2 separate regions of the Homo sapiens genome follow, and region 1 is linked to region 2. Evidence: fine-mapped expression QTL. Tissue or cell type: whole blood. Region 2 holds a variant in brackets; the other region holds the start of a gene. All regions are shown on one strand. Distances are between the middles of the regions.

The links. PIP is the estimated chance that this variant, and not a neighbour inherited with it, causes the effect.
Region 1: ALPL starts here. The variant in region 2 is fine-mapped to the expression of ALPL in whole blood (INTERVAL, PIP 0.96).

The regions. Positions count from the first base shown.
Region 1 is chr1:21,505,265-21,514,390 of GRCh38, reverse strand. ALPL (alkaline phosphatase, biomineralization associated) reads right to left here and starts at 4,968. Exons shown (of 12, transcript NM_000478.6): 1 at 4,874-4,968. RefSeq lists enhancers at 3,885-4,454, 4,455-5,025 and a silencer at 5,061-5,160.
Region 2 is chr1:21,542,690-21,552,959 of GRCh38, reverse strand. The region is part of intron 1 of ALPL (alkaline phosphatase, biomineralization associated); the gene reads right to left. Among named protein-coding and RNA genes, the nearest start is that of ALPL, 38 kb to the right of the region's middle. The variant G/A (reference allele first, on the strand shown) is at 6,192.

The sequences.
Region 1 (9,126 bases), 38 kb after region 2:
AGGGAGCACAGGGTGAAGTGGCGCACCAATGCACAGGGCTCTTGGGGAGCAAGGGGTAAGGTGGAAGCTGTCAAGGGAGTCTCTTCCCTGCAGGGGCTGTGCAATCTTTAGAATGAAGTACCCAGCGATGCCTGTCCCCAGCTAGACCCTGGGCTCAACTCGCTGAGCCTTGACAGGTAGATGCTCTATCACCCCCAAACCTCCAGAGCCCTCAGACTCTTCCTGAGGACCACCGAAGCAGGAAAAAAGCTCCTTCGCCTAGCTGACATGTTTTGTAGATGTTGCCAGGCTATGGAAGAGGGGCTAGTGTCCACGTGTCCCATATTCTCACCCTGAGCCCCCTGAGGGCTGGCCCAAGCCCCACACAATCATTCAAGTGGAATTTGAGCCCCTCTTACATGGCCTCACTGCATCTAGCCCAGAAACCGCAAGCTCAGAAGGTAGGTAGGTAATGTCAGGGAGGCAGGTGGGCAAGTGTGAGGCAGTGGGGCGTGGTGGAGACTGTGGTAAAGTGGATGGAGCAGCTGCTAATCAGCTCCAGCCACTGTGGCCAGGCAGGGACATAGCCCCATATGGCCACATCTTCTGATCTTTCAAGAGAAGCCAGAAATCCTTATCTTTATATAAAATGAAATTGCCTGGTTTAAAAACACCAGCAACTAAATAAAAGTTGTTTAATCACCGCAAAAGTCAACAATCCCCCACCCCCTGCAGCCTTAGGAAGGCAGTTTGTGATGGATCTCCCATAACCCAGCACACAGCAGGCTATAAATATCTGAGGACCAGTTGAATACATTAGACCCATTCCAAGTCTTAGGGAAGTCTCATCTCTCCACTCCTACTCCTCAGATATATTGGTTTACAGATGAAGAATCTGAGACTCAGACAGGGGAAGTGACTTGCCCAAGGTCACAGAGGTATTCAAGGACTTCAGCTCAGCTCTCCTGAGCTTAATATCTTTTTCCACCAACCCACATCATCTGCATCCTCCCTTAAACAATGATTTTCAAAAAACAGATATGCTAAGAATATACTGTAGAAATGAAACACACCAAATTCAGGAGAGTGGTTGCCTTTGGAAAGATCATGTAGCTTAAGGCCAGGAGACTGAATTCCCAGTCCACTCTGCCCTAAGCAATTGTGTGACCCTGGGCAAGCCTCTTCTCCTCTCTGGGCCTCAGTCTCCCTGGTGCACCAAGAGCCCAGTTGACCGAGCCAGCTTCTAAAGGCCTTCCAACTGAAATTCTGGGGATCTATGTCTCCTCTCTGGCCAGTACTCTGTGGCCTCAGATGAATACAAAATAGTAATAATAATAATAATAATAATAATAGAGAGGGCGAGTCCACACCAGCCAGGAAAGAACACTACGACTTTTTGTGAAACCTGACTCCTGGTTACTGGAATTCAGAAAGAACGATGGTAATACTTGAGCAGCTTAACCACCATCCTACAATTAAACAAAAGCACATCTGGTTTAACTTCGTCCTCATCTCCTCCCTAACCCCCTACTCTCATCTCAAATTTTACCCCTTAATTTGAGAAGTCAAATTCAATGCAAACAATTGATTTCATGCCACAGTGAGGCTGAGAATTTAAGCATGGAAAACTTTAAGCATAGAGTTTTTCTGGGAGCAATTAACGAAGTGTTGGCGGGGGGGTTGGGAGCTGGTACAAGGAGGCAGAAAAATACGGAGACTATGTTCTTCAGACACTGAGCATCATATCTTGATGTTGGGGGCCTCCTATGAGCTTGACACTCAGAGAGGTAAAGTGACTTGCCTCAGGTCACACAGCTGGCGATTGGAATCCAAGACACCAGCCCCCAAACCAGTGTTTTCCCTGCTGTGTAGGCTTTTGTGACCTAAACGTGGACTTCCCTCAGGCCCTCAGGATCACCTGGTAGGGATAAAGTTAACTGCTTTTGAAATTGCTCCACAGGAAATATGAATGTCTTAATAACATCAATGCTGGTTCAGCCCAAAGTTGGAAAACCATTTATGATCTTGCGACCCTGCAAAGTATATAATTTTAACCCATATTGCAGATGAGAAAACTGAGGCTTCGAAAGGGAAGGTGACTTGTCCAGGGTCGCATGGCAGTGCTGGGAATGAACCTTCAGTCTACTGCCCCTAACTGCCCTCTGAAAGTGAGGACATCTCCAGAAGAAAAAAAACAAATCTAACATACCACAAAGCCCAGCTCCAGCCTGCCAAGGACGACGACATGGTGCTGGGAAGCCAAGTCAGCATTCCTGTGGCCACATGGAGATTTCTGAGTGCTGGTTCTCAGCCCAGCTTGCTCACTCTCCCAGCAATGTTCTCTCAGAGCTCTGGGTTTTGTATTAAAAAGCCAAGTCAGACTGATTTCAAGGTGAGAACTCGGGCTCTGCTACTGGATCCTACTCCCTGGATTAAAAGGCCTCATATGCCCAGAGATGGGTACAGCATGGAGATTGCTAGATTTGGAATTCTAGATACGCAGGCTCCAGCCCCAGCTCCTCAGGTAGCATCTGTGTGCCTCTGGGCAACTCACTTCCCCTTTCCAAGATCATATCCAGCTTGCAGGGAATGTTGGGTATGTAAGTCATGGGACAGAACAGGGCTGAGTTTGGTCCTGAGCTAGGACACGGTGAGGCACAAGAACAGGCAGAGGGCAGGAAGCGCTGCAGAGATGATGGCTCCAGGGCTGATCTCATCATGGAGCTCTGCGCTCCCAGCCCAGGCTGTGTTTAGGATGGCGACAGAAGGTGGCATCTGAGTGTGAGCAAAGAGGGCACCATGCCACCCCACATGTGTAGCCCAACAGGATGGGAAGGGCCTGGGCAGAAGTGGGTAACAGGTTCAGAGGCAGGGTAGGCACATAACCCAACTTCCAGTCTCCGCATTGCATTTTCTGCTGAGAAGAGAGCTGAGGATAGCCAGGATTTTCTTAAGCACAGGTACCAGCTTAAACCCTTCGCAAGCATTCATCATATCTAGACCTCACCACTGGTAGGCACTATTGATCTCCACAGCTTATGGGAGGAGGCCGAGGCACAGAGAGGGAACAGAACTGATCCCAGGTCCCACAGCAAGGCTGCCTTTGCTAAAGTGAGGGCCAAAGGTTGGCCAATCCATTTTACAGGTGATTGCGTCTTAATCTCCTTCCTTATGAATAGCTTGATTTCAAGTCTACACTGTGAATTCTGACAGTTTCAAAGCCTGAAAGAATTTTGTTATGCAAACATCCAATCCAGAAGAGGGCTTTTGGCTGATTTACTGTGGCATTCCCGGCACCTAGAACAGAGCTTGGCACACGGCGGATGCTTAAGTATTTGCTGAATGAAGATAGCATCTTGTTCTGGCCTCAGTTCAGTTTTATTCCTCACAATAGTCCCGAAAGGGGAATACACCCCTTTTTACAAATGGGCACATGGACCGGGATCATCACTCAGCCTAGTCTTCACCAGTTGGGATGTTGAGAAGCTGTGTCCAGGGGCCTCTTCTGAGGGAATTCACAGGTATTCAGTTAAAGAAAGAAAAAGGTGACACAGGAACAAGATGCATGGGGCCAGGGAGTGGGATGGCTGGGGCAGGACAGCGTGGGGACACCCACAGGTGGGGAGGACTAAACAGTTGGAAAGAGCAAGACTGGAGAGTGGAGGAAGAGCGGGCTGAGCCCAGGAGGAGCCGGAAGACAAAACCAAGGCTCAGCCCCCTATCTCTTAGGCAACACAGTGGGAGCAGGACGCTAGGGCTGCAGAGTTTGGAGTCTGGATTCAAACCCTGGTCCCACCACTTACTTAAATTGTCTAAGCCTCAGTTTCCCCATTTGTAAAATGAAATGATGTACATGAGATGTCAGAGCAGGTCCCTCTACGCACGGTAGGCCTTCAAAAAACAGTTGCAGTATCTACACTGAGGCTGGGACCCAACCCCTGCCTCCCTGGGCAGCTGGGCCCACCTGAGCGGTCTGACTTTTTCCCAGGGCCCAAAGCCCTTCCTGGCCCAAGAATCGCCCCCTCTTTTGATCTCAAGGAATTTCACCCTCCACCCAGAGGCCTTTGTAAAGGCCCCGCCTTCGACCCCATTATGTGTTGAAAAAGAGTCATAAGGCACAATGGGGAGTGGGGGAGGCTTTCCTCGGCCTCCTGCCTTTCTGCTGAGACCTGCGTTTAACCCTTTCTTACCAAGACTGGGCAGGGAAGCAGCCCTGGGAGGCCCACCTCGCAAAGCCTAAAGGGGGCGGCAGGCTCCTTCGGCTTCGCGGGCTCCAGAGCTTTGCCCCACAGCTGCGGTGCCCACAGTGGGTGCCCACACTTTGACACCCACGCGGGTGTCCTCTGTCTCCTCCCGCCACGCCCCCCATTCCAAGCGCCTCCTGCCCTCTCCTCCTCCCAAACCAAACTGCTTTAGACCCCACCGGGTCAGGTGGGACGCCTGGGAGGGCGCCAGGCCACGAGGCCTTGGGGTTGGCAGCCCAGGTCTCTAGAGCTACGGCTAAGGAGGCACCAGGAGGGGCTCAGTCACGGGGCACCAAGGGCAGGTGCCCAGACAGAGCGCAGGGTCCCAGGCAGCGGCTCGGGAGGTAGGAGACCCTGGGACTGCAGGGCGGTCCCGAGCGCGGTCCCCTGAGTTCGCCGGCTCCGCGGGCGCCACGTCCAATCTCCTGTCCCGCCCAGAGCGCGCGCCGGGAGCTTGGGATGCGCGGGAGGACAGGGGCAGGACCAATTGCAGGGCGTCCCGAATGGGCTGCTGTGGGCGGCGTGGCGCTGGAGACCCCGGCCCTGCCATTAAAGTTCAACCACGGGGCCAGCGGAGGATGCAGAAGGGGATGGACCACGTCCGCTGGGGCCCTGGGGAACCAGGGCGCGGGGCAGCGTCGAATCCTTACCTGCGCAGAGCACTGGCGAGGGTCCGTCCAGGCACAAGCGCGTGGGAGCACGGAGCCAGGATAGCGGGCGCGGAGTGGCGGGAGCGCAACGCGGCCCGGGCCACCACCCCCGCCGCCTTATAAAGGCGGCCGCGGGGCCCGAGTGAGGCCCGGGCAGCCCGCCCCCTCCCCCGCCCCCGGCCCCAACCCCTCCCCAGCCCGGCCCCGGCCCCGCCCCCGGCCCGAGCCCCGCGCCCCGCGGGCCGGTCGTGCCACGAGGCCAGGGCGCCCCCTGCCGGGAGCGGAGCTAGGAACGGGCTGGGGTGACGCGGCCCTGGCGTCCCTCGCCCGCCCCGCACTCTCGGTCTCTCTGCCTCCGGGCTGCCCCAGCCCAGCCCTTCCTCTCTCAGCGAGCCTGGGCTCTGACCTGCTCCTTGCGCGCGTCTCCTGTTTTGTCTTTACCGTCGGCATCTTCCTTCTGCGTCTCTTGGTGGGAGTCTTTGTCTCCACCCGTCTCTTTGTCTGCCTTCCTCTCTGGCGTCTGTCTCTGTGTCTGTCAACATATCTGGCTTTCTCTGGGTCTCTGTCTTTATCCGTCTCTGCCCACGTGTCCCTGTCTCTCTGTCTCTGTCCACGTGCACCTCTGACTCTGCACCCCCACCCCCGCTTCCCTGCCCGTGGGCTGCCTCCCTGGCTACCGCAAGAAGAAGCAGAAGGGGACCTCGGAGGGGTGGCATCTGGAGGGAAACCACCCCCTAGACAGGGGCCCTTCCCTCTTTCTCTCTTTAGAGACGTAAAGGGCCCGCAGGTGTCCGGCTATGTCCCAGCCAGAGCCCCAGGACATGCTCCCTGGATGCCAGAGGAGGGGCAGGCACTTCCCAGGCAGTTGAGTCAGACAGCTCAAGTTCAAAACTCTGCTCTGGTGACCTTGGCCAAGTCACTTGACCTATGTGGACCAGCCTGCCCCTCTTTAACAGGCAGACACCATCTCCCCTGGCCTCTCGCTGGTGCGAGAGTCATATGAGACAGTGCTTGAAAACTACAGAGGAAACGCTAAAATCCCGGATAGACGGGAGCCAGGGACAGAGGCTGGGTGCTACAGGCCCTGCTCCCGCTCCTGGGGAACCAGCTCTGATGGAATAACCACTCCCTTTCCTCTGAGCACTGAATTCTCTGGGCAACTTCGCAGTGAGAAGTCCGCAGGCTCTGTTTGAATGCCTCCAGCGACAGAGCTCACTGACTCCTAACAGGAGGGTCTTCTCAGTGGCCCTTGGGAAAATGTCTGCCCAGAGAACCAATTTTAGCCAGGTCAGGCAACCTCTCTTCCACTCACTCCATGCCAGTCTCAGGGCCAGGCACTGTGCATGCATTAACTTCCAAAAGCTCCATTTTCCAGAGGAGAAAACTGAGGCCCAGAGAGATCATGTGACTTCTCAGTAAGGTTGGAGCCAGAACTGGGGCCTGGTGCCAGAAACCAAGAATGTCTTTGTATTTATTTTTGTTTCTTTTGTATTTTTGGTTGATACTGTTTATTTAGAGGCGTGACATAGGTTCCCTTTTCAGATAAGTTTATGTTTTTTAAAAGTGAGTCAAAATATTGAGTAAATACTATTTATTTATGTATTTCATGGGTTGGGTGATATGGCAAAAATCATGGAGGTAGCAAATGAATGGAGTTTAGGAAATACCATCCTCTGTAAGAAATTGCAGGTGAAAGCACCCAGCACTGGGCCTAAAACATGGGAGGGGCTCAATACTTGCTCACAAATGCCAAGGAAGGGTTTAAGGATTCCAGGAGACTTAAGATGGTATCATCATCAGTGAGCCAGGGGCAAGTCCCCAGGCATGGAAAATCTGCCTGTTGCTTGGACAGAGGCTGGGAGGCAGAGCCAGAGGGAATTGGAGGCACCCATTGCACCTATCATGGGGCCAGCACCCCTGACTTTTTTTTTTTTTTTTTTTTGAGACAGGGTCCCACTCTATTGCCTAGGCTGGAATGCAGTAGCATGATGTCAGCTCACTGCAGCCTCGACCTCCCGGGCTCAAGTGATCTTCCCACCTCAGCCTCCCCAGCAGCCAGGACTACAGGTGTGCACCACCACGCCCGGCTAATTTTTGTATTTTTTTGTAAAGAACAGGGTTTTGCTATGTTGCTCAGGCTGGTCTCGAACTCCTAAGCTCAAGTGATCCCCCTGCCTCCTTATCCCAAAGTGATGGGATTACAGGCATGAGCCACCACACCCGACCCTATCCCTGACTTCTGATCTCCCCAAAGCTATGAGGGACGGGCACTTCTGGTTGAGCCACATGGCCAGCATTAGGTCCCCCATGTCTGTGATTTGCCCTCAAGTCCCTCCACCTCGGGATTTCAGGGATTGGTTATCAGCAGCAGGGACTATACTGCTTGGCCAGCCCTGCCACCTTCCACCCTCAAACCCTCTTACTCTGCTCCTGGGCTGGGTCCCTCAAGGAGAATTCAACTGAGATGGGGCATCCAGCAGCCCTTGCCTCCCCTGCTCCCCGGGTGCCCCTCCTCCTGGCTCTGTCAACACAGCGGAAAGAAGTCCTGGACCTGGAACCAGGAGACTCCAGTCCATCCTCCAGCTCTGCCCTGGCTTGCTGGGGAGCTGAGCAAGTCACTTTTCCCATCGAGGTTCAGATTCCTTCTGGCCTTTTGAACTGGACAATCTCTAAGTGCAACCCAGATGCCATGATTTCAGGACCACTCAGCTGGTGGCAACAGCTCATTACATTCGATTTCTCTCCATCATTGTCCCTGGGGCACCACTTCCTTGTTGAAAACTAAACAAATTGGATTTAACCTCCAAGCTCCCTGTGCCTAAGAGCTAATGATGTCTTTTGAGTCTCACAGCAGTATCATAAGGTGGGCAGGGCAGGTGTTTACAATCCCCACTATACATGGGGTACACCAAGGCCAGAGATAGTAGTTACTTACAGGTCAGGGTCAGAGCTGGGTTTGGTTACCAGGTTTACTATTCCCAGTCCAGGGCTTTTTCCATTCATCCATTTATTCCGTATCTGTTAAGTGCATGCCATGAGCCTGTGCCGCAAGCTAGACCTTCAAGTTCACTAGGCAGGCCAGGCATGGTGGCTCACGCCTGTAATCCCAGCACTTTGGGAGGCCAAGATGGGAGGGTCTCTTGTGTCCAGGAGTTAGAGTCTGCAGTGAGCTATGATCACACCCCTGCACTCCAGCCTGGCCAACAGAGTGAGACTTTGTCTTGGGAAAAAAAAATTTAAGAGGTTCACCAGGCATTAGAATTAGAAGCTAAGTTAGGCCGGGCGTGGTGGCTCATGCCTGTAATCCCAGCACTTTGGGAGGCTAGGCAGGTGGATCACCTGAGGTCCGGAGTTTGAGACCAGCCTGGCCAACACGGTGAAACCCCGTCTCTACTGAAAACATAAAAATTAGCCGAGCAAGGTGACGCACACCTGTAGTCCCAGCTACTTGGGAGGCTGAGGCACGAGAAACGCTTGAACCCTGGAGGCAGAGGTTGCAGTGAGCTGAGATCACGCCACTACACTCCAGCCTGGGTGACAGAGTGAGACTCTGTTTCAAAAAAAGAAAGGAAAAGAAGAGAAAAAATTAGAAGCTAAGTTAGAGATGAGGCCAGAAGCCCAAGAGCATAGGGTAGGGTGGGGCAGGGGGACAGCCAGGACCTCAGTAGACAGAGATAAAGGAGAAAGAAAGGAGAGAGACAGAGAAAACAAAACTCTGAGGTCTGTTCGTGGAGAGGCGGTGAGGAGTCAGCTGTGGTCTAGGGCTGGAGAAAATAATCCCTGAAATCTATTTAAAGGCAAGGGGGCCTGAAACCTTGGTCTGTTTTGATGCTTGGACTAAAGGGGTCATTTTATCTCAAGCCCAGGCCTGAGCACAAGTTCAGCCATTTGATTCCCAGTGCCACCTACAGCCCCACCTTTAACTCAGTTAAAAAATGAACCAAAAGGCATGAGGTGGAAGAGACTACGACAGCCGAAGCAGCATCATTAAACCGACAATGCTGCCGTGGCCAGGGCAATTGGACGCTAATAAAAGTAGGGACTTTTATTCTCTCTTCACGGATGAGGAAACTGAAGCATATATGAGCTATTGTTGCTGGGGACTCCCTCTGTGTCTGCAGCCTGATGGAAAGATCTTTATAGGTGAGATTTAACTTGCTCCTCCCTGCAACACCAAAGCACCATCACTGTTGTCATCGTCACCTTTCCAGTGAGCAGGCTGTTATCCCAGGCAGACTTGGCAACCTTATTCA
Region 2 (10,270 bases):
ATGTACTAACCCTGTTGCACATGAGTTACAAGACAAAGAATTTTAAGTGGCAAGAGTTTCACTGGGAAATGTTATTGCTTCAGCCAAAACCAAGATATGACACCATTTGTTGTGGGAAACAGCAGTAATACACACTCTACCGTTAGAAAAGTGTTGTGACAGATAAGACACCACTCTAGTCCAATTATTATATGTTAAGTAAAAACAAAATAAAACATTTTTTAAAAGTTGTTTAAAGAAAAAAAGCCAGGCATGGTGGTAACATGCCTGTAATCCCAGCTACTTGGGAAGCTGAGGCTGGAGGAAGTTCGCTTCAGGCCTGGAGTTGGAGACCAGCCTGGGCAACACAGCGAGACCCTGTCTCTAAGAAAAATTTTTGTATTTTAATTTTTTAAAAGTTTCTTTTCTTTTTAAAAATTCTTCTCTTTGCAGCTCCAGCTCAAAGGAAAAAGATTTTTTCTTTTTCTTTTTTTTTTTTTTGAGACGGAGTTTTGTTCTTGTTGCCCAGGCTGGAGTGCAATGGCACAACCTCGGCTCACTGCAACCTCCGCCCCCCGGGTTCAAGCAATTTTCCTGCCTCAGCCTCCCGAGTGGCTGGGATTACAGGCTTGCGCCACCATGCCCGGCCAATTTTGTATTTTTAGTAGAGATGGGGTCCATGTTGGTCAGGCTGGTCTCGAACTCCCGACCTCAGGTGATCTGCCCACCTTGGCCTCCCAAAGTGCTGGGATTACAGGTGTGAGCTGCCGCGCCCATCCAAGATTTTTTTTTTTAATTTAAAAATAGAGAAAAAGAAAAGGAGAAAAGGAAGGAGGGAGGGGAGGGGAGGGGAGGGAGGAAAGGGAAGGGGAGGAAAGGGAAGGGAAGGGAAGGGAGAAAAAGAAACCACTACCACCAGAAGAAGGATCTTGATTCAACCTTAAAAACACGCAAATGGCCGGGCGCGGTGGCTCACGCCTGTAATCCCAGCACTTTGGGAGGCCGAGGCGGGCGGATCACGAAGTCAGGAGATCGAGACCATCCTGGCTAACACAGTGAAACCCCGTCTCTACTAAAAATACAAAAAATTAGCCGGGAGAGGTAGCGGGCGCCTGTAGTCCCAGCTACTCAGGAGGCTGAGGCAGGAGAATGGCGTGAACCCGGGAGGCGGAGCTTGCAGTGAGCCGAGATCGCGCCACTGCACTCCAGCCTGGGCGACAGCGAGACTCTGTCTCAAAAAAAAAAAAAAAAAAAAAAAAAACCACGCAAGCTGCGCTCCAGTGCCAGAAGTGACGGCTCTGGGGTAGGGGCTGGGGGTAGCGGCGCAGAGTGGAAATTAAAAGGCAATATCCCACATCTAACATCTAACAACACTTAACTGTGAGTGGTAGAATTTGGAATTTCAGATGATTCCTACATTTTTTTTTTTGTTCTACTTTACGGTTTCCAAATATTTCTATAGCAAATCCTAAAATCAGAAAAATGTTATTAACTGAATACGAAATACTAATTCATTAAACTATTATTTAAAATCACTTAAAAATGAAGTCACCTCTTTCAGGAAGGCTCCAGGATGGTCACTCACTCATTCCAATATAACACCACTGAGCTTCATGCCACCTCAAACATCGCATGTACCTCTCTTTTTGAAGGTAATATAGTTCTTTCCTGGGCCATCTCAGCTGCCACACCGGGAGTTTCTAAGTGTGAGGACTTTGTCTTGTTTGTCTCTGCCCTCCTAGTGCTTGGCATAGTAAATATTTACATCAGTTGAAAGCCAGTGCCCTAAGGAAGGTTGTGGGGGGAAGGGAAGAGCCATCCAAAATTATCTTCTCTGTGTGTGCAGGAAAGTCCAAGAGTTCGTGAAGATGTTTAACTACCGGAAGGTCCGCTCGCCGTTGGTGGAGTGCAGACAGGCACAGCGCATGGGAAAACCGGCAGGATCTACCGAAGCTGATCATCCTACCTGTACCCTGGGACCCGTTTCTCTCCAGCAGAATGTGCACATCAGCCCTGTTTATAATGGCTTCAAAACTGCCTCCATCTACGGCAGGCTGGATAATACATTGTGTGTGTTCACAACACAGAAACCACCACAGACAGCAAGGAGAATGGATGATCCACAGCTCCTCACAACAACATGAATGAATCGCACAAGGTAAGCTTGAGCAAAGGAAGCTAAACCCAAGAGCACTTACAGTGTGATTCCGATGACAGAAAGTATAAAAACTAACCCAGGGCGTTGGGAGACAGAACGGAGGCTCCACGTGGAGGGTACGGAAACGGGAACGGGCTGCTGGGGTGCTGGTGCGGTTCGGTTTATGATTGATCTGGGTGGGTGGGTGCTGGTTACACGGTGGGTTCAGCTGTCAATGTATGATACACACATTTTTCTCTACGTGCATTTTATTTCAATAAAATAAATACTACTCTTTGGGAGCTTACATGAACAATCTATAAAGGATACTGACAAAATGAAAGCAAGTCTATGTGCTGCACTCCATAGTTCATAAAGAATTTCACCATGATGTTTCACTAATCAGCTATGCAGTGGACAGAAAAGGACCTATCATCTCCTTTTACAGATGAGAAAACCAAGGCTCTGGACGGAGACTTGCCCAAGGTTACCAACAGGAAGTTGCAGAGCAGAAACCTGACCACAGGGCTCCTGATTCCAGAATTAGCAATCAGGTTACCATCAGTCACCCCCTCCAGAGGGAGGGATTTCTGTTGCCCCCAAGTGTAAAATGAGTGTTCTGACGTTTGACACATGGATAGATTTATGTAACCACCACCGCCACCGTCAGGACCCAGAACAGCTCTGCCACCCCAAAAATCTCTCTTGCGTTCTTTATAGTTACACAATCCCCCCATCCCTAAACCTGGCGATCCCTGATCTGTCCTCCACCACTGTGTTTTTGATAGGTATGGTATTAAATCCACAGATCAATGTGGGAGGGTTTACGTCTATACCACATGGAGTTGCCCAGTCATGAAGACACCACGTCTCTCCACTCATTCAGTCAGAGTTCTTCGGTTTTATCAGCACTCTGTAGTCTTCAGCCTGTAGATCTTGGATATGTTTTCTTAGATTTATACCTACGGGTTCCATCGTGTAATGGTTAGCATTCTGGACTCTGAATCCAGATTTATACCTAAGAATTTTGCTTTTTGGGGAACTATTGTAAATGGCAATGTTTCTGAGCCATATACTACCGAGCCAAGTGCGATGGCTCACACCTGTAATCCCAGCACTTTGAGAGGCTGAGGCGGGTGGATCCCTTAAGGTCAGGTGTTTGAGACCAGCCTGGCCAACATGGTGAAACTCTCTCTACAAAAATTAGCTGGGCATGGTGGTGTGCACCTGTAGTCCCAGCTACCTGAGAGGCTGAGGCAGGAGAATCACTTGAACCCAGGAAGCAGAGTTTGCAGTGAGCTGAGATCGCATCACTGCAGTCCAGCCTGGGCAACAGAGTGAGACTCCATCTCAGAAAAAAAAAAAAAAGAAAAAGAAAAAAGCATTCAGCCTTTCGGCGTTTGGGGTGGTCTTTTGAGGCGTGAGGTGGAGACAATCAGGAACTTGTTTTTGGATATGTTGAGTTGGAGATGTCTTTTAGAAGTGGAGACACTAAGGAGGCAGCTGAATATTTGGCTCTGGCATTTGAAAAAGAAGTCTGGGTTAGAGTATAAATTTGGGAATCATAGGCACAGGGGTGGCAGTTAACACCCTGATCAAACTTGACGTGCTCACCTAGGGAGAGGGAATGGGGTCACAGAAAACGATGTGACAGAAGCCCTCAGCAAACCAGGTATTGAAAAGAATTTCCTTAATCTGATAAAGGCTTTATGCCAAGAACCTGCAGAAACCATCATACTCGCTGGAGAAAGCTTTGGCAAACTCCTTTTAACACTGGCTTATGATGGTGAGGAGCCGGGGCAGTCTCGTCCACAACTAGGGAAATGAATTAGTAAGGAGTGGTGGAGGCAATGTCTGCGTGGCAGTGGTATTAAAACTAGATGTCCAAACAGCAGCGTGGTGGGGTCTAAAGGCAGAGGACTGAGTGATGAATGTAAAGAATCAAACGCAGTGTATGTAAGTGCAAACCACCCCCACGGACAGAATGCTGTGTAACGTACAAGGACACTTACAACTCCAAGGCCATATTAAGTACATTAGCATAGGGACTTCGGTGAGCTGTGGGAATGGCAGTGGGGAGGCAGGGAGCAGGGACAAAGGAAAAAATGAATAAACAAAACAAGAACTGAGAGCTTATTTGGGTATGTCATGTGCTAAGTGAGATAACGTATCCCACTCTCTCTGCACTGAGGGTCCAAAACAGGTGAGCGAATAAAGAAAAATAAAAGTGTAGTGACCCGGGAGCACTGAAAGGCTCATCCAGCCCCACATGATTATTCTTCCGGTTATTGGTCTGTCTCTCCTCCCTGCTAGCCTGAAGCTCTGTGAACGTAAAGACCAACATCTTACCCATCTCTGCATCCCGAGCCCTTGCACATGGTAGCAGTTCCATAAGTGCCACCAGTTCAGGCTGGGATGCTCTGAATTTTGGCCCCAGGGATAGGCATTGAGATAGGCTTGGCCTGGAGGCAGGTGCCTTCTCCCATAGCCTCCGCTCAGGACAAGGAGAGGGTGGGGACCTGGGAAAGCCTTCAGAACCCAGAGCCTCCCTGCTGGCCCCACCCCTAGGACCCCTCCCCCTCGCAGAGGCTCCTGGCTGCTCTGTGGCAGCCCTGGAAGCGGAGGGGCCCAGTTTGGGGCTGTGGGGGCCCCGGCTGCCCACCACCCTCTGCCAATGTCTGCCAGCTTAAAATGGGGCCTCCGGGTGTGTGTCAGCCCCATCGCCACCCCCTCCCTCCCTTCTCTGCCAGGCTCCCGGCTCCTCCGTAGCCTGATTACGCATGGCCAGTGCAGAAGCCCCGGCTAGGCTGTGGCGCCAGAGGAGCAGCTACTTGGCAGTTCAGTGCAGGGGGCTGAGGAGCCAGGCAGGCCTTAGCTCTGAGGACTGATTCAGCAACCCAGGCAGAGGGCCCGGGAGCATCCTGGAGTGGGGCAAAAAGCCAGCCTTGGGCTGGGTCTCAGAAGATCTGGGGCAAATGATAGAAGAATGGGACAAACGTGTCACTACCATTTCTTAGGCCCTCATGTTCCACTCAGCCCCATGCTGTTTACATCCCTGATCTCACAATATGGATGAAGAGCCCCCGTTTTGTAGCTTAGGAAACCCAACAGAGGGTTTGGCTAGTCTTCGACTATGCGCCATTTAAGCCCAGGCTGACGCCAGGGCTCAACCTCTCCGGGCCTTGGTTTCCCCACCATGAAGAGTAAGAGAAATGAGTGCCCCGCTTGCTCCATCTCACGAGAACAAATGGAAGCTGAACGAGCTTAGGGCAGGGAATTTGGCGGGATGCAGGGGGAGTCAGGCCAGCTGAGTTCCCCTACCTGAGCGGCCTGGCCAGGCGGCAAGTGAAGAAACAAAGGAGGCCCAGGATCAGCCCCAGGAGGAGGAGGCTGAGGGCCACCGTGAGGACCACATCCAGGATGGGGGACAGGAGGGCCATCTTGGGGCAAAGAGGGCCCCTGGGAGCAGCCACCACGCCCTGCACACACTCGGTCACACTAGCTCCAAAGCCCTGGGTCAGTGGCCGTGACCCGCTTTATCCCTGGGTTAATCTTTGTGGATTAGTCAGAAGGGATGAAACGGGGTGCTGGGGTGGGAGGGGGAGCAGGCTACGAAGCTCCTCTCTCCCATTTGAGCCCCGGGGGAGGGCCCGATGCTTGTTCATTCAACTTTGTTCATTCATTCCTCACTCCCAAACACCTACAGAGCACCTGCTGAGTATCTCTGTGCTAGGTTCTATGGAAACAGTCGGGAACGGGACAGAGTTTCTGTCAGCTTGGAGGTAACTGACCAGCCAGTGTGGACAAAGCACCTACTGTATGCTAGACATTGTGCCAGGTGCCCTGTGGGGCAAAAACATGGAAGGGAACCCCTTGGCTAGTAACACAGTAGGTTTTCCCCTAACAGCAGCAGCTGTTCCAGCCCATCTATGGGCCTAGAAATCTGAGTTGGTGCTTACCCCAGCCAGAGGGATGCACCCATGCTCAGAAGAAGACGAACTGCTCTTATTGAGCACCAACTGTGTACCAGGCCCCATCTGGGCTAGGGACTAGTATCCCCATTTGCAGAGAAACA[G/A]AGGCTCAGAGGTGCAATGGTGGAGTTGGGATTTAAGCCCAAATCTGGGGGTCTCCACGGCCCGTACCTCAGAACTGAGATAGCAGCAGCCTACGGAGGCTTTAGTGAAGCCCTGCCAGGCGCTGGCCTAAAGCCAGCAGTCACCCAGGAGGCAGCACACACAGGCTGGAGGTGGACGAGCTGTTGCCAGCACGGAGGGGCCTTTTCTGCTTCCAAAATTGTCTCCCCAACCCAGATCCAATCTCTCCTAAAACATCCTGTGAAGTCAGGAGAGTGGTTATGATTCCCATCTCACAGATTCAGAAACGGCCCAGAGAGGTCAAGCCACTTGGATATGCACAGCTGTGCACCATTAGACCAGGCCTTTTCTGATCACACTTCCTGTCTCCTGGTACACCTCAGATCCCATGGTCCAAAATACCCAAGGTCAGGAGGAGACACTTTTACCCTCTTGGTGCCAAGGAAAGTCCCCTCTTCTTGACCCCAGAAAGGCCACTGACCTCACCATAACAGGAAAACTAATCTCGTTACTCCATTACGCCCTTTTCTTTCTCAACATTCCCGTAACTCAAATTGCGTCAGATCCTCACAACATCCTAGTGATACTGGCAGGGTGGGGATTATTAGCCCTATTGATAAAAGAAAAACTTCAGCTGAATTAAATTTAAAAGAATTGCCTGCAATCCCAGCACTTTGGGAGGCTGAGGTGGGTGGATCACGAGGTCAGGAAATCGAGACCATCCTGGCCAACATGATGAAACCCCGTGTCTACTAAAAATACAAAAATTAGCTGGGCATGGTGGTGTGTGCCTATAATCCCAGCTACTCGGGAGGCTGAGGCAGGATAATCGCTTGAACTAGAGAGTTAGAGGTTGCAGTGAGCTGAGATCGTGCCACTGTACTCCAGCCTGGCAACAGAGCGAGACTCTGTCTCAAAATAAAATAAAATAAAATATAAAAAAATAAATTTAAAAGAGTTTAATTGAGCAATGAACGATCTGCAAATTAGGCAGCCTCCTGAGCCGGAGTAGGAACCAGCGCAGCCACTTAGTAGAAGAAGATTTATGAACAGAAAAGGAAAGTGAGGTGCAGTCAGATTGGTTACAGCTTAGCACTTGTCATTTGAACACGGTTTGAACAGTTGGCGACATTTGATTGGCTAAAACTTGGTAATTGGTGGCTGGGCATGGTGGCTCACTCCTGTAATCCCAGCACTTTGGGAGGCTGAGGAGGGTGGATCACCTGAGGTCAGGAGTTCGAGACCGGCCTGGCCAACATGATGAAACCCTGTCTCTACTAAAAATACAAAAATTAGCTGGGCATGGTGGCAGGCGCCTGTAATCCTAGCTACTTGGGTGGCTGAGGCAGGAGAATCGCTTGAACCCGGGTGGCGGAGGTTGTAGTGAGCTGAGATTACAATGCTGTACTCCAGCCTGGGCGACAGAGTGAGACTCTGTCTTAAAAAAAAACAAAAACAAAAACAAAAACAAAAAAACCCCCAAAACTTGGTGATTGGCACAAGTGTAGGCTATAGTCTGTTTACACCTCTATTTCTTATAGTTTACAATGTAGAGAAACTGCTAGGCTGAACTTAAAATATGTAAGAAGGCAGCATTAGGCTAGATTTGATTTAATAATTCCCTTCTTTTAGTTATTTTTTAAATTTTGAGACATTGACCAAAACGAGTCACTGATGTCACTATCACCATTGTAAATGTACTTATTTGGTCTCGAAACCCACTGGGAAACAGTAGGACAGTGGGTTTTGTAAGGTGGGAATAAAGACTTTAGGTTATTTTTTTTAAGGGTTAGAGGGTATTTTTTTTAATGTTGGAATGTCCTGTTTACAAGAAAAAAAAACAAAACAAAACCTGGTTTTAGCATTTATGTGTTCTTTTTAAAGTTTTAGTTTGATGATATCACATTTAGCACAAGTGACTCTATTTAGGTTTCGTCTGGTCTCTTGGGGCCTAGTGTATGCATTTAGTCCAAAACAACAGCCTCTCATAATTTTGTTTTTGTTTTGAGACAGTTTCACTTTGTCGCCCAGGCTGGCATGCAGTGGCACGGTCTTAGCTCACTGCAACCTCCGCCTTCCAGGTTCAAGCAATTCTCGTGCCTCAGCCTCCTGAGTAGCTGGGACTACAGGCGCATGCCACCATGCCCAGCTGATTTTTTTGTATTTTTTAGTAGAGACGGGGTTTCACCATGTTGCCCAGGCTATTCTTGAACTCCTGAGCTCAGGCAATCCACATGCCTCGGCCTCCCAAAGTGCTAGGATTACAGGTGTGAGCTACCACGCCCAGCTCATAATTTTGTTTTAAAATTCCCCCTTTTTGGTCAGGTTCTCACTTAGGTGAGAGTGTGACCCAAACTTAGGGCCTTAGCACCACTCTCAGTCACCACATTTTGAAACCAAGGCCTAGCAATGAAGTCACTGGGTGAGCTGTCACACAGCCAGCAAATCTGATCCAAGCCCAAGCTCCACCACTTCCCAGGTGTGTGTTGCTGGGTCAGTCCCTGCACCTCCGAAACTGTTTCCTTTGGCGTCTAACATTGGTTTCCCATTCAAGAACTACGGTGCACCAGGTGCTGACTGTGACACACCTGACCTGCTGTGTCCTCATTAACAACCCTGAGAGTGAGACAGAGCTGTCCCCCTTTACAGGTGAGAAAATGGAGGTCCACTTGGCCATGGTGAAGAGGTCACATCGATGGCAGGTACTGGGCCAGGCCCTGCACAGGCCTCCATGTGGGACCTACCCAGGGACACCCCTGTGCCAAGCTCTCTCCACCTCAGCTCAGCCGGGGGCCTTCCCCATCCAAGCCCACCCAGCTCCCAGGCCTGCTCCAAGGACACCCTCCAAGGCTCTACCAAGCAGCCTAATAAACTGATGTGCCTCCAGGGAGCATCAGCTGGTATGCCCCAGCTTGTACCTGGCAGGACTCACAGGGTCAGGTATTTGCCCTTAGGGAGCCCCCGGTCTAGAGCACGCAGCCCCAGACTGTCCAGGCTGGGAAGGTCTTTTGCGATTTCCCAAATGCCCCGAGCCACAAAAATCACTTGAGGTGCTTATGGAAAAAGTCTTATTCCCAAGTGGTTACCTTGGGAGGAGGATTGACTAGGCGGTGCATGAAGGAACTTCCTGGGGCAATGGAAATGTTTTGTTTTGTTTTTTTTCAGATGGAGTTTCACTCTTGTCGCCAAGGCTGTAGTGCAATGGCGTGATCTCGGCTCATGGCAACCTCCACCTCCCAGGTTCAAGTGATTCTCATGCCTCAGGCTCCCGAGTAGCTGGGATTACAGTGTTTCTGCCCGGCCGGTCTTTATCATGACCTGAGAAGTAGTTAAACGTGTGTATATTTGTGAAAAGTTGTCGAGGGGCTAATCGTCCCTACCCTGTCTATATCGTGAGGTTTTTGGGGAGGAGCTGATGAGATTTCAATAAAGGGAGTGTTGGGGAAAAAAAGGGTTTAGTGGAGGGATGTGACTATATGCAAGTTTAAAAGGACAGATTAGAAAGACATAACAGCCCCCTAAATAAATTCCTACTTCTCCTATTCCAGACCTACTCGGTCAGAATCTCCCAGGTCAGGGCCTGGGAAGCTGTTTTTTTATTTTTTGTTTTGAGACAGGGTCTTACTCTGTCGCCCAGGCTGGAGTGCAGTGGCACGATCATAGTTCACTGCAGCCTTAAGCGATCCTCCTGCCTCAGCCTCCCAAGTAGCTGGGACTACAGGCACACATTACCACATTTGGTTAATGTTTACATTTTTAAAATAGAGGTGGGGTCTCACTATGCTGCCCAGGCTAGTCTCGAACTCCTGGGTTCAAGTGATCCTCCTGCCTCAGCCTCCCAAAATGCTTGGATTACAGGTATAAGCCGCTGTGCCCAGCTGGAAGCTGTATTTTTTTGGTGGGGGGATTGGGGGGATGGAGTCTTGCTCTGTCACCCAAGCTGGAGTGCAGTAGCGCAATCTCGGCTCACTGCAACCTCCGCCTTCAGAGTTCAAGCGATTCTCATGCCTTAGCCTCCCTAGTAGCTGGGATTGCAGGCCCACCACCATGCCCGGCTAAT